2 separate regions of the Homo sapiens genome follow, and region 2 is linked to region 1. Evidence: fine-mapped expression QTL. A gene starts in region 1. The other region holds a variant in brackets. All regions are shown on one strand. Distances are from middle to middle.

The links. PIP is the estimated chance that this variant, and not a neighbour inherited with it, causes the effect.
Region 2: its variant is the best candidate, but not a certain one, in a credible set for the expression of SLC12A2 in pancreas (GTEx, PIP 0.53).

What each region holds. Positions count from the first base shown.
Region 1 is chr5:128,080,628-128,086,007 of GRCh38, forward strand. It overlaps SLC12A2 (solute carrier family 12 member 2), which reads left to right and starts at 3,139. Exons shown (of 27, transcript NM_001046.3): 1 at 3,139-4,083. The coding sequence starts at 3,328. SLC12A2-DT (SLC12A2 divergent transcript) reads right to left here and starts at 2,548. Exons shown (of 4, transcript NR_152813.1): 1 at 2,343-2,548. RefSeq lists a silencer at 2,803-3,632 and an enhancer at 4,123-4,292.
Region 2 is chr5:128,595,804-128,601,183 of GRCh38, forward strand. No RefSeq gene overlaps it. Among named protein-coding and RNA genes, the nearest start is that of FBN2, 60 kb to the left of the region's middle. The variant G/A (reference allele first, on the strand shown) is at 2,059.

The DNA.
Region 1 (5,380 bases):
TCAAAGCGCTATCATCACTTCCTGGATTGCTGTAATACCTCTTAACACATCTCCTTGCTTCTTTGACCCAACCATTTATCCCTTGCCTACCTACAAGACAGCTAGATGAATCCTTTAAAAATGGCAGATGTCATTCCTCCACTGAAACCTTCCAATAACCTGCCATCTGCCAAGGACTGTTGTGTACCCTGCTAAATTAATATGTTGAAGCCCGAATCCTCTCCTCACTCCTATGTGACTGTATTGGAGACAGTCCTTTTAAGGAGATAATTAAGGTTAAATGAGGTGATCAGGGTAAAGCCCTGATTCCACAGAACTGGTGCCCTTATAAGAAAAGAGACAACGCTCTCTTTATCATCTGAGGAGACATTGAGAAGGTACTGTCTGCAAGCCAAAAAGAAAACCCGAACATGATCATGCTGGCATTCTGATCTCAGACTTCCAGCAGGCAGAACTGTGAGAAAATATATTTCTACTGTTTGAGCCACCCAATCTATGTATTTTGTTATGGCAGCCTGAGCTGACTAACACACTATTCTACTAAAAAAGTCAAGTATGTCTAACAGCCAAAAAAGGTCCTAAACATTCTGATCTACTACATCCCATATCCTAAGCTCTCTGATGTAATTGCCTTTGATTCTTCACATCTCTTAAGCAAGTTCCAGCCAAACTGGCTTACATGCAATTCCGTGAGCATGCTAAGCATGCTCCTGCCTTTGGGTCTTTGGTTTCCCTCTGCTTCAGACACTTTTTTTCCCAAGAACTCATATCACTCACTTCCTTACTCAAATATCACCTTCTCAGTGAGGCCATCCTATGGAAAATTTTATGATCCTCATTTCACACAAATATCCCATTTCCCTTTCCTTAGTACTCACTGCTTGGATGCTATGTATTTTACCTATTTATCTTGTCTATTGTTTCTCTTTCTCACTAGAAAGAACTCCATGAGAGATGGGATTGTCCGTTTTGCTCACTGCTATATCCCGTAAATACAGAGTAGCTCATAGTACCTGTTCAGTATTTATTCAACTAAATGAATGTTGAATTCCAATAGTGGCAGAATTCGTTGTGGAGCTGAAAGGTACTGCACGGATCAACTACTAATGCAGCAATTCCCTAGTAGAAAACTGCACTGCTTAAAGGACCACCTCATTTTTCTGGCCTCCTCTGGTTATTACTAAAGCTCAAAAGGAGCTTTAAAAATCCTGATGCAACAGCTGTTTTCCCCTCTCACCGTCTTTAAAAATAGAGATAATAAAATAGCCTGAAAAGTTGTCAAGTTCAAGTAAGATCATGTTTATGACAATTTTTTGAAAATTGCCTGGTTGCAGCTTTTACTTACAGCATTTTCAAACAGTTCTGCCAACTCTGTGGCTCTTTCATCATGTTTCAAGTGTTCAGCAAACGATGGTGTTCGTCTCCATAAAGTCAAAGTTTAAAAATACAAGGGCCGGGCGCGGTGGCTCATGCCTGTAATCCCAGCACTTGGAGAGGCGGAGGTGGGCGGATCACGAGGTCAGGAGATCGAGACCATCCTGGCTAACACGGTGAAACCCCGACTCTACTAAAAATACAAAAAATTAGCAGGGCGTGATGGCGGGCGCCTGTAGTCCCAACTACTCAGGAGGCTGAGGCAGGAGGAGAATGGCGTGAACCCAGGAGGCGGAGTTTGCAGTGAGCCAAGATCGCACCCCTGCACTACAGCTTGGGCGACAGAGCGAGACTCCGTCTCAAAAAAAAAAAAAAAAAGTACATAAATAAAAACCAAGTAATTGGAGGACGCCATTCATTGATTTTACTTAGGACTTTGGGCATAATCTATAGGTTTAAAAATTTCTGCTGCTAAGAAAGTGGGAACACAGTTATATTCCCTTACATTTTACCGAAGAGAAACTAGACCTGCAGAGGAGTACCTTTCTGTTTCTATATAAGCAGAGGAATTCTGCACAACCCAAATCACGCAGAAACCTCCTGGTAAGGACTCCACGGGTAGTTATTGCCGGCATTGTATTCTGAGAGATGAGCTGCATATCACTTTTGGAAATGCCTTAAATTAAAACTCGTCTTGAAACAACATGACGTCTCAAAGAAGCTCCCTTCTCACCTTGGAACATCAGCTTTTAAAATAAAGGTGTCATCAGAAGTGTGTAGACACCCACTGCATCACAACTGGAACTGATCTCTGGTTATGCCAATCTAGGTCTGCCTGGCAGGGTGAGTCTACCGCTCGAAAGCTGCACAGAGGAAATCCTCCCTCCTCCAGGTTCAGGCCCGGAGTTACGAGCGGAGATTCGCGGCGGCGGGTCAGAGCCCAGAGCAAACCAGGCTGGGGAACGCACCTCGCCCGCGGCTCCGGAAGCGGCTGCGGCCCCGACCGGAAAGCCCCCAGCATCGCCCGAAGGAATCGCGGCTGGCCTGCGGCTCCGGCCCGGCCTCGGGTACCACGCGCCTAGTGGGAAGCCGCACTGACGCCTGCAGCATCTCGCGAGATTTCGGGCTCAGCCCAAGTACTGCGAGTTCACCAAAGCGGGGGGAAAAAAAAAAAGCCAGCGTGCGAGAGCCTCTGAAGCCGTGGCTGGGGCGCTGGGGTGGCAGCTGCCGCGGGAGCATCAGCTACCGGCGTGAGGCGAGGCAGGGCACGCGCGCCGTCCGCAGCCCCGTTGCCTGGGCTGCAGGTCCACTGACGCGCGGCCCCTGGGTGGAGAGAGGGGAGGTGGCCTGGGAGCCCGCTCCTTTTCGCCGCAGAGCGCGGCGGGGGAGGGAGGTGAAGGCGTGGGAGGAAGGCGGCGGAAGAGGAGGTAGCCGCGCGGAGATCCTCCCGGCGACATCACTGAGGCGGAGCGTAGCCGCGCCTGCTCCCCGATCGCGCCGTTCGTGCTGCCCGCACTGCCCGAGGCCCTTTGCGGACTGGCTGGCCGCGCTCTTCGCACGGGGCGCTTTTGCGTGGGGTCGCGCAGGAGCCGCGGAGGGCCGGATCGCTGAGGGAGCGTCAGCCGCGCGCCGCTGCGGGACCGCGGGTGGGCGGGCTGAGGGGCGGAGGAGCCTCCGGCCCCGCCTCCCGCGTGCTGCTGCCGGAGCCGCCGCCGCCGCAGCCCCGCCGAGGCTTTAAACAGCGGGGCCCGCCCCGCGCCCGCCACACTCGCGCGCTCGCTCGGCTGCCGGTGGCCTCTGTGGCCGTCCAGGCTAGCGGCGGCCCGCAGGCGGCGGGGAGAAAGACTCTCTCACCTGGTCTTGCGGCTGTGGCCACCGCCGGCCAGGGGTGTGGAGGGCGTGCTGCCGGAGACGTCCGCCGGGCTCTGCAGTTCCGCCGGGGGTCGGGCAGCTATGGAGCCGCGGCCCACGGCGCCCTCCTCCGGCGCCCCGGGACTGGCCGGGGTCGGGGAGACGCCGTCAGCCGCTGCGCTGGCCGCAGCCAGGGTGGAACTGCCCGGCACGGCTGTGCCCTCGGTGCCGGAGGATGCTGCGCCCGCGAGCCGGGACGGCGGCGGGGTCCGCGATGAGGGCCCCGCGGCGGCCGGGGACGGGCTGGGCAGACCCTTGGGGCCCACCCCGAGCCAGAGCCGTTTCCAGGTGGACCTGGTTTCCGAGAACGCCGGGCGGGCCGCTGCTGCGGCGGCGGCGGCGGCGGCGGCAGCGGCGGCGGCTGGTGCTGGGGCGGGGGCCAAGCAGACCCCCGCGGACGGGGAAGCCAGCGGCGAGAGCGAGCCGGCTAAAGGCAGCGAGGAAGCCAAGGGCCGCTTCCGCGTGAACTTCGTGGACCCAGCTGCCTCCTCGTCGGCTGAAGACAGCCTGTCAGATGCTGCCGGGGTCGGAGTCGACGGGCCCAACGTGAGCTTCCAGAACGGCGGGGACACGGTGCTGAGCGAGGGCAGCAGCCTGCACTCCGGCGGCGGCGGCGGCAGTGGGCACCACCAGCACTACTATTATGATACCCACACCAACACCTACTACCTGCGCACCTTCGGCCACAACACCATGGACGCTGTGCCCAGGATCGATCACTACCGGCACACAGCCGCGCAGCTGGGCGAGAAGCTGCTCCGGCCTAGCCTGGCGGAGCTCCACGACGAGCTGGAAAAGGTGAGCTCGCCCAGCCCTCCCTTCTTCCCCAGCCCCTGGTGCATGCCGACCGCGGGATGTGGCTGCAGACTCTTCCCGAGTTGAGGTGGCGGGAGTAGTAGACGTGCACGACTTGCTGGCATCTCTGGATTCAGCTGTCAAGGGTGGAATTGCCGAGGAATGTTAACTTAATCTCTCAAAAGTTTGTAGCGGGTTTGGCTAGTTACGTGATACCGGAGGGCTGCCTCTAACAACCTTCCCCATCCAGTTAGGTATCTCGTGTGCACTTTCTTTCCCACCCACGCTCAACAGTCACCATCCCTCTGAATGACAGTAGTGTTTGTGGGCCCTTTAGAGGAGAATGTGCAGTGAGGATCTCTCGAGAGAGGTTGGAGAGCACCTACCATCTGTGTCGTTTTGAAAGATTGTGTTGTGTGGCTTATGTACGCCTATTAGGGATCGCAAGAGTGGGAATGTTGCTGTTTGAAGGAAAACCTTAACAGGGTGTGTTTATGGTCTATGAGTTATTAAAGCTCAATTCTTGCAATCTTGAATATACAAAGGATCATAGAGATCTTGTCTTGGGACACGCTGTTCCTAATAATGGCATAACTCTTTTTTTTTGCGATGAAAACGTTTTGGGAGAGGTGTATATTTAAAAAAAAAGGGACAGAGGCGAGTCTTTAAAGAAAAAAGGGAAACAGGAGAATTGGTTTTTCTGTAGAGGATGACCAGAAAGACCTGTGGGGTCTTTGCCATAAGCAGTTACACTTTGTAAACAGAAAACCATCCCCATAAACTCATTGATTTTTGTAACTATTTTTTATGGTCACATAAGACTTATTTCTTCAGCGTTCAATGTCACTGTTTTGAGATAACATTGATGCTTTTGAGATTTCGTTAATGTTTAACTTTTTTATGAGCCGGGATTACTTGAAGTCTTCCTTTACAAGTGTGTAATGACTACATTGATGGAATTTGTGAACGCAAGAGGATGGTACCACATAGGTTGAAATGATCACAGTTTGGACAAGTTTAAATCCAGTATGTGATTTCTTTTGGATATGATTATTTGATCTCATACAGTGATTTCATACAAGATTGTACTTGTCCCAGTGTTTGATAATGTAACATTCACACAGAGGTAATTACAGAGCTCTTACAGCTTATTGATTGTTTAAAAGCCTGAGATCATTTAGCTTTAGATAATACTATTCTTGTTATTCCATTGTGGTATTTTGTCATAATCAGAAGCAAAACAATGTCTAAAACATTTTTTATTCATACTCCTGTAGTTTCTATCAAGTCTATTCTTTTT
Region 2 (5,380 bases), 520 kb after region 1:
AGTGAGTTCTAAAGAAAAGATATTTATGTGTAAGTTTGTAAAGTTTTGAGTTTGAGTCTTGACTCACAACAGTGTACACTGATGATTTTTTTTCTCCATTGTCTTGCTAAATGTAATGCTCATTTCTGTGCTATTTTCAAAAATTAATCAACAGTTTAATCAGTCATGCTTAATTTGGGGATTCCATTGGTGGCCACCTCCCTGCACCATCTACTGAATGAATCTATTTGTTTTAGGACATCGATGGCAGAAAAGATTATTTGGGATCCATGAACCTATTTTGTTTACAAAGCTTGTGCTTAGGTAGTTGACGCTATTATCAAACAGAGTGTGCGCTAGAGATGGTGCTTGGCAGGCTTGGGGTCAGGCTTTTCCGGGTCTCAGTTGTAAATCCTGCAATGTTTTTTTCCCCTCCCTTTAGTTCACTTATGGTAGCTTGGGCAGAGTCTGACATATTTCATTCCTGGCTGCAGGCCAAAACAGGCTTTTTAACAAAGCCACGTATTCTTTTCCTACTTTCAGATGGGCTAGCCCCACCAAAGTGGTTGACTTTCTTCTAAAGTAGTGAAAATAGATTTGTCTCACTTGGCTCTTTGCTGTAAGCAAAGGAAAACAATTTTGCCTAATTAGCAAGGGAAAACAATTTTGCTTAATTTAAAGAGAAGGATATAAGTAAGAAACAAGAGGAAGTCAGGAAGTGGGAACACAGGCAAAATCTTGCCTCAAATGCTCTGGTTCAGACACTGCTGCTGGCCCTACCTCCTCAGGTGACAGTGCCAGGATGGTAAAGCCACAACCGCCCACTATCTCTACCCACCCCTGATGCTGAGCACAGTAGCATAAACTGTCCCTTTATCCTTGCATCACTTGATGAAGGTACAAAAGCTGAGAAAAAGAACCAGATGGCGGGGGCGAGGCACCTGTTCATGGGATATGGAGAGGACACACTTGTCTTCCTTTGGCCTTTGTGTGCAAAGGTGGGCTGTGTCTCTCTCCAGGGCTCACACAGTGGGAGATTTCTCCCCAAAAGGAAGAGGTTTGTGCAGCCAACAAATAAGGAATATTCACTACAGTTTACCCTTTTGGCTGACTATATTTGTCCTTCTACACATATTTACATTAAAAAAGTCCTTATCTAACATAATATAATGATCCTTCGTATAACTTACAATACACTCTTTCCCTCCCCCAAGTAAGAAAATCTGAAGTGAGCCAGACTCCAAATCCAGAATCTCTGGGGGATGTCCACTTCTTTGGTTCCGCATAATCCCACTTCAGAATTTGGCTACTGAAAGCACGCATTATATGGTTGATTACTACCACCTACCTCCTCAAGAAAAGGGAATTTAATTAAAATGCGCAAATATAACCATGATTCAACAAGAAAGAAAAATTGGGTAGAGGCTTTAGTCTTTGTTTCTGCAAGTGACCATGAGACTGTCACTGGTATTTATGACTTTATTCCTCCACCAAGCATTTCTGTTTGCTTTGCCCTCTGCTAGCACCTCAGCTGGCTGGGATTCTTTACCCAGTGGGATCACTCAAACCTTCTTCCGGAGGGATCTAAGCTTTTGGTGGTTCTGCCTGAATAGATTGCCAGAGTCTTTGATTAACTTTTAACACTGGGCATGGTAATATGAGAAGGTGTTCTGTTTATTCTCCTCCCTGCCCCCATTGTATAACAGCAATCCAGTTTTTCCTTGAGAATTAGAATCAATCAAACTACGCTAAAACACCATTTTCCCCCTGTCTTCAACATGAAGAGTGTAAAATAGTCCAATAGAAGTCTAAGCTCCATCAAATGCTGAAAACATTCCTCTTTTCTATGATCCCCATGCCAGCAGAGCCTGGAGCTGATGGGATGGAATGCAAAATTTTGCAAGATGTAATTAGCAATTAGGTAATAGCACCATGTTTAATATAGCACCATAGATAATTAAGTGAATAGCACCATATTTCTAGTCCTTTGTTCCTCAACTAATATAATTTGGTTTTGGGAAAAACAGAATTGTTTACTGTTTGCTGGTTAAAGAACAATTACTACATCTACAGAACCAG[G/A]CCCTGAATTTTCAAAGTATCTATTGTACATTAGGACTTAAATCCATCTTCAGTAGTGCATTTTACCCTTTTTTCTTTCTTTCTTTCTTTTTTTTTTTTTTTTTTTGAGACCGTGTCTCACTCTGTCGCCTAGGCTGGAGTGCAGTGGCATGATCTCAGCTCACTGCAACCTCCGCCTCCTGGGTTCAAGTGATTCTCCTGTCTCAGCCTTCCGAATAGCTGGGACTACTGGTGTGTGCCACCATGCCCAGCTAATTTTTTGTATTTTTAGTAGAGATGGGGTTTCACCGTGTTAGCCAGGATGGTCTCGATCTCCTGACCTCGTGATCTGCCAGCCTCGGCCTCCCAAAGTGCTGGGATTACAGGCATGAGCCGCCGCGCCCAGCACATTTTACGCTTTTATAAGATGATTGACTCTAGATGAGGGTCCTATGATAAGACTGGCTATTTCTAAAGTAAAGTGAATTCTTTGGCTGGGAGAAATGTTGTGTAGTGTGCCAATACTTGGTTTCCCTTGAAGTGGACAAAATGCCCACTAGAGTTCATTCTGGGGATAATGCTGGAGAGCACTCGAATCCTGCGTTCTTAGGAATTAGTGTTGCCTCACAGATTGTGTCTTATCTTTTCTCTAAATGTTTGATATTTTTCTTTCTTTATAACACAATTAACTTAGTAAATGCCAAAAGTCACACAGCTAGTAAATGTTACAGCCAGACTTTGAATCCAGTATTCTGACTGCAAAATAAAAGCTCTTGTCTCTATGCAATGCATCTCTTCTCTACACCAGTGATTTTATTGTCCTTTGTGGTCATTAGGCTTTTCTTCATTGAAGGAGCCTCTTGGATCTTTAAAATGACTTTGTGCAACATGTTTATCTGCTACATACGAGTGAGACATGCAATATTTGTTTTTCTGTGCCTGGCTTATTTCACTTAACATAATGACCTCCAGTTCTATCCACATTGCTGCAGATGACAGGATCTCTTTCTTTTTATGGCTGAATACTATTTCACTGTGTATATATACCACCTTTTCTTCATCTATTTGTCCACTGATGAACACTTAGATTGATTTTATACCTTGGCTATTGTGAATAGTGCTGCAATAAACATGGGAGTGCAGATATATCTTTGATATGCTGATTTCCTTTCTTTTGGGTATCTACTTAGCAGTGGGATTGCTGGATCATATGGTAATTCTATTTTTAATTTTTTGAGAAACCTCCACACTGTTCTCTATAATGGCTATATTAATTTACATTTCCACCAACAGTGTATGAGTTCCCTTTTCTCTGTATCATAGCTAGCATTTGTTTTTTTTTGTTTTTTTTTTTGTTTTTTTTTTTGTCTTTTGTAAATAGCCATTTAACTGGGGTGAAACAATCTCATTGTAGTTTTTGATTTACATTTCCCTGATTGGTTATGTTGAGCCTTTTGAAATATACCCGTAAACCATTTGTGTGTCCTCTTTTGAGATAGAGACTAGAATGATAATTACTAGAAGCTAGGAAAGGTCAGGAGTGGAAGAGAATGAAAAGAGGCTGGTTAATGAGTACAAACACAGAAGGGCTAAGTACTATTGTTTGATAGAACAGTAGGGTGACAATAGTTAACTATAACGTGTGGAATATTTCATAATAGCTAGAAGAGAAGATTTCAAGTGTTATCAATACAAAGAAAAAGTAAATGTTTGAGGTGATTGATATTCTAGATACCCTGATTTGATCATTATACATTATATGCATATATCAAAATATCACATGTACCCCATACATACAGACAATTATTACATATCAGTAAAACTTTTTAAAATGACTTTGTTCTAGGACTTGGGTAAGAGGTCAAGAATTTTATATGTATTTTGGTGGTATTTACCAGATCCAAAGTTTTTTCAAATATACAAGATTTTATTTCAACATCTTAGACTGCATGGTTGATTAAACATTGTCAAAAATATCTAGGTTAGAACATTCTGATCACTATGATAACTATGCCTCCTCTCCCTCTGTTGATTAAATGCCATATGATGGACATCTGATTGAATCATCCCCATGACCCATTGGGGAGTTCCTATCATTAGCATTCCTAATGCTAAGATACCTTTCTAAGTTGCTGGTGTTATTCTCACTAATGTGTATCACAAACTTCAGTGAAGGAAGTGAATTCTGGACTCCCCCTAGGGAATGTAGAGAGTGGGTTAGACAGTTTGCATATGGTAAATCCATTGTGGTCTTCCATTTTCTAGTCTCCGCATTCCTTCCTTTTTGACACACCAAGGAATGTCTGACATTTCAATGAATGCGGTATGGAGAAATAAATCCTGAGTATACCTATAGTTGCACCAGATAGAAAAAATTAAATTAAATTATAATTTTAATCAGAGTGAATGCATGTATACACTTTTAGAAGCAAAGTAAGACAACAAGGCATATGACAACAAACTGCAGCCCCCTTCATACATATCTACCCTTAATTTTTGCTCTCAGAGATGATGACTTTCAATTCTTAACTCTTTCTTATGCTGTATTTCTGAAAACTTGCTTTTTCTGCTTTCTTGGTTTTTAAATTTTAGACATTATCCATTGATTTCCAGTTACTGAAGATAAGTAGTTAGTTTTTTTTTTTTTTTAACAGCAATCGCCACCAGTGCCTACAATTTCCATCTCTCATCACTTTCAGTATAGTTATCATGTAATTTTTGGTTAAATTAATATTGAGTGTCCACATTCTTTTGAGTATGTTAATATTGTCAACAGCAGAGTTTGTAATATAGTGACCTTCTACATCTTATGAAGCTTTTTGTTTTTTTTGGAGTTTATAATGAATTCTTTTTACATGTTTGCTTATCTTATAAATACAGGTACTTATTGCTAACAATCACCAAATTCTTCTACTGATCTATGAAACTCTTTAAAATAAAGTCATAAATCAAGCACAGCAGATAATAATCTATCAGTCTCTTTTTTTTTCGTCATCTTTTTTTAAGCTCCAAGTCCTCCTGCAATATTTATTATCTCAACCTACTACATAACTATCATCCTAAGGTTTCTGGTCACATTGAAACTGGGAATTTTCCTTGCCTTGCTGCTATATTGAATCTCTTTTTCCTGGATGCCATATCCTTCTATTTCTTAGTTTAGATTTTTTGTTTTTGTGGAGCACATCCTACTGAGAAAAGATTACCTATAATAGGCAAGACCCTTAATGTCTGAAAATGCCTTTACTTTATTTTTACATCATGCTTTAGCTTCTAGTCTGATGCCATTAACTTTTTTGAAAAAAAAATTTGTTTTTTATGGGTGTAGAGTAGGTGTACATATTTA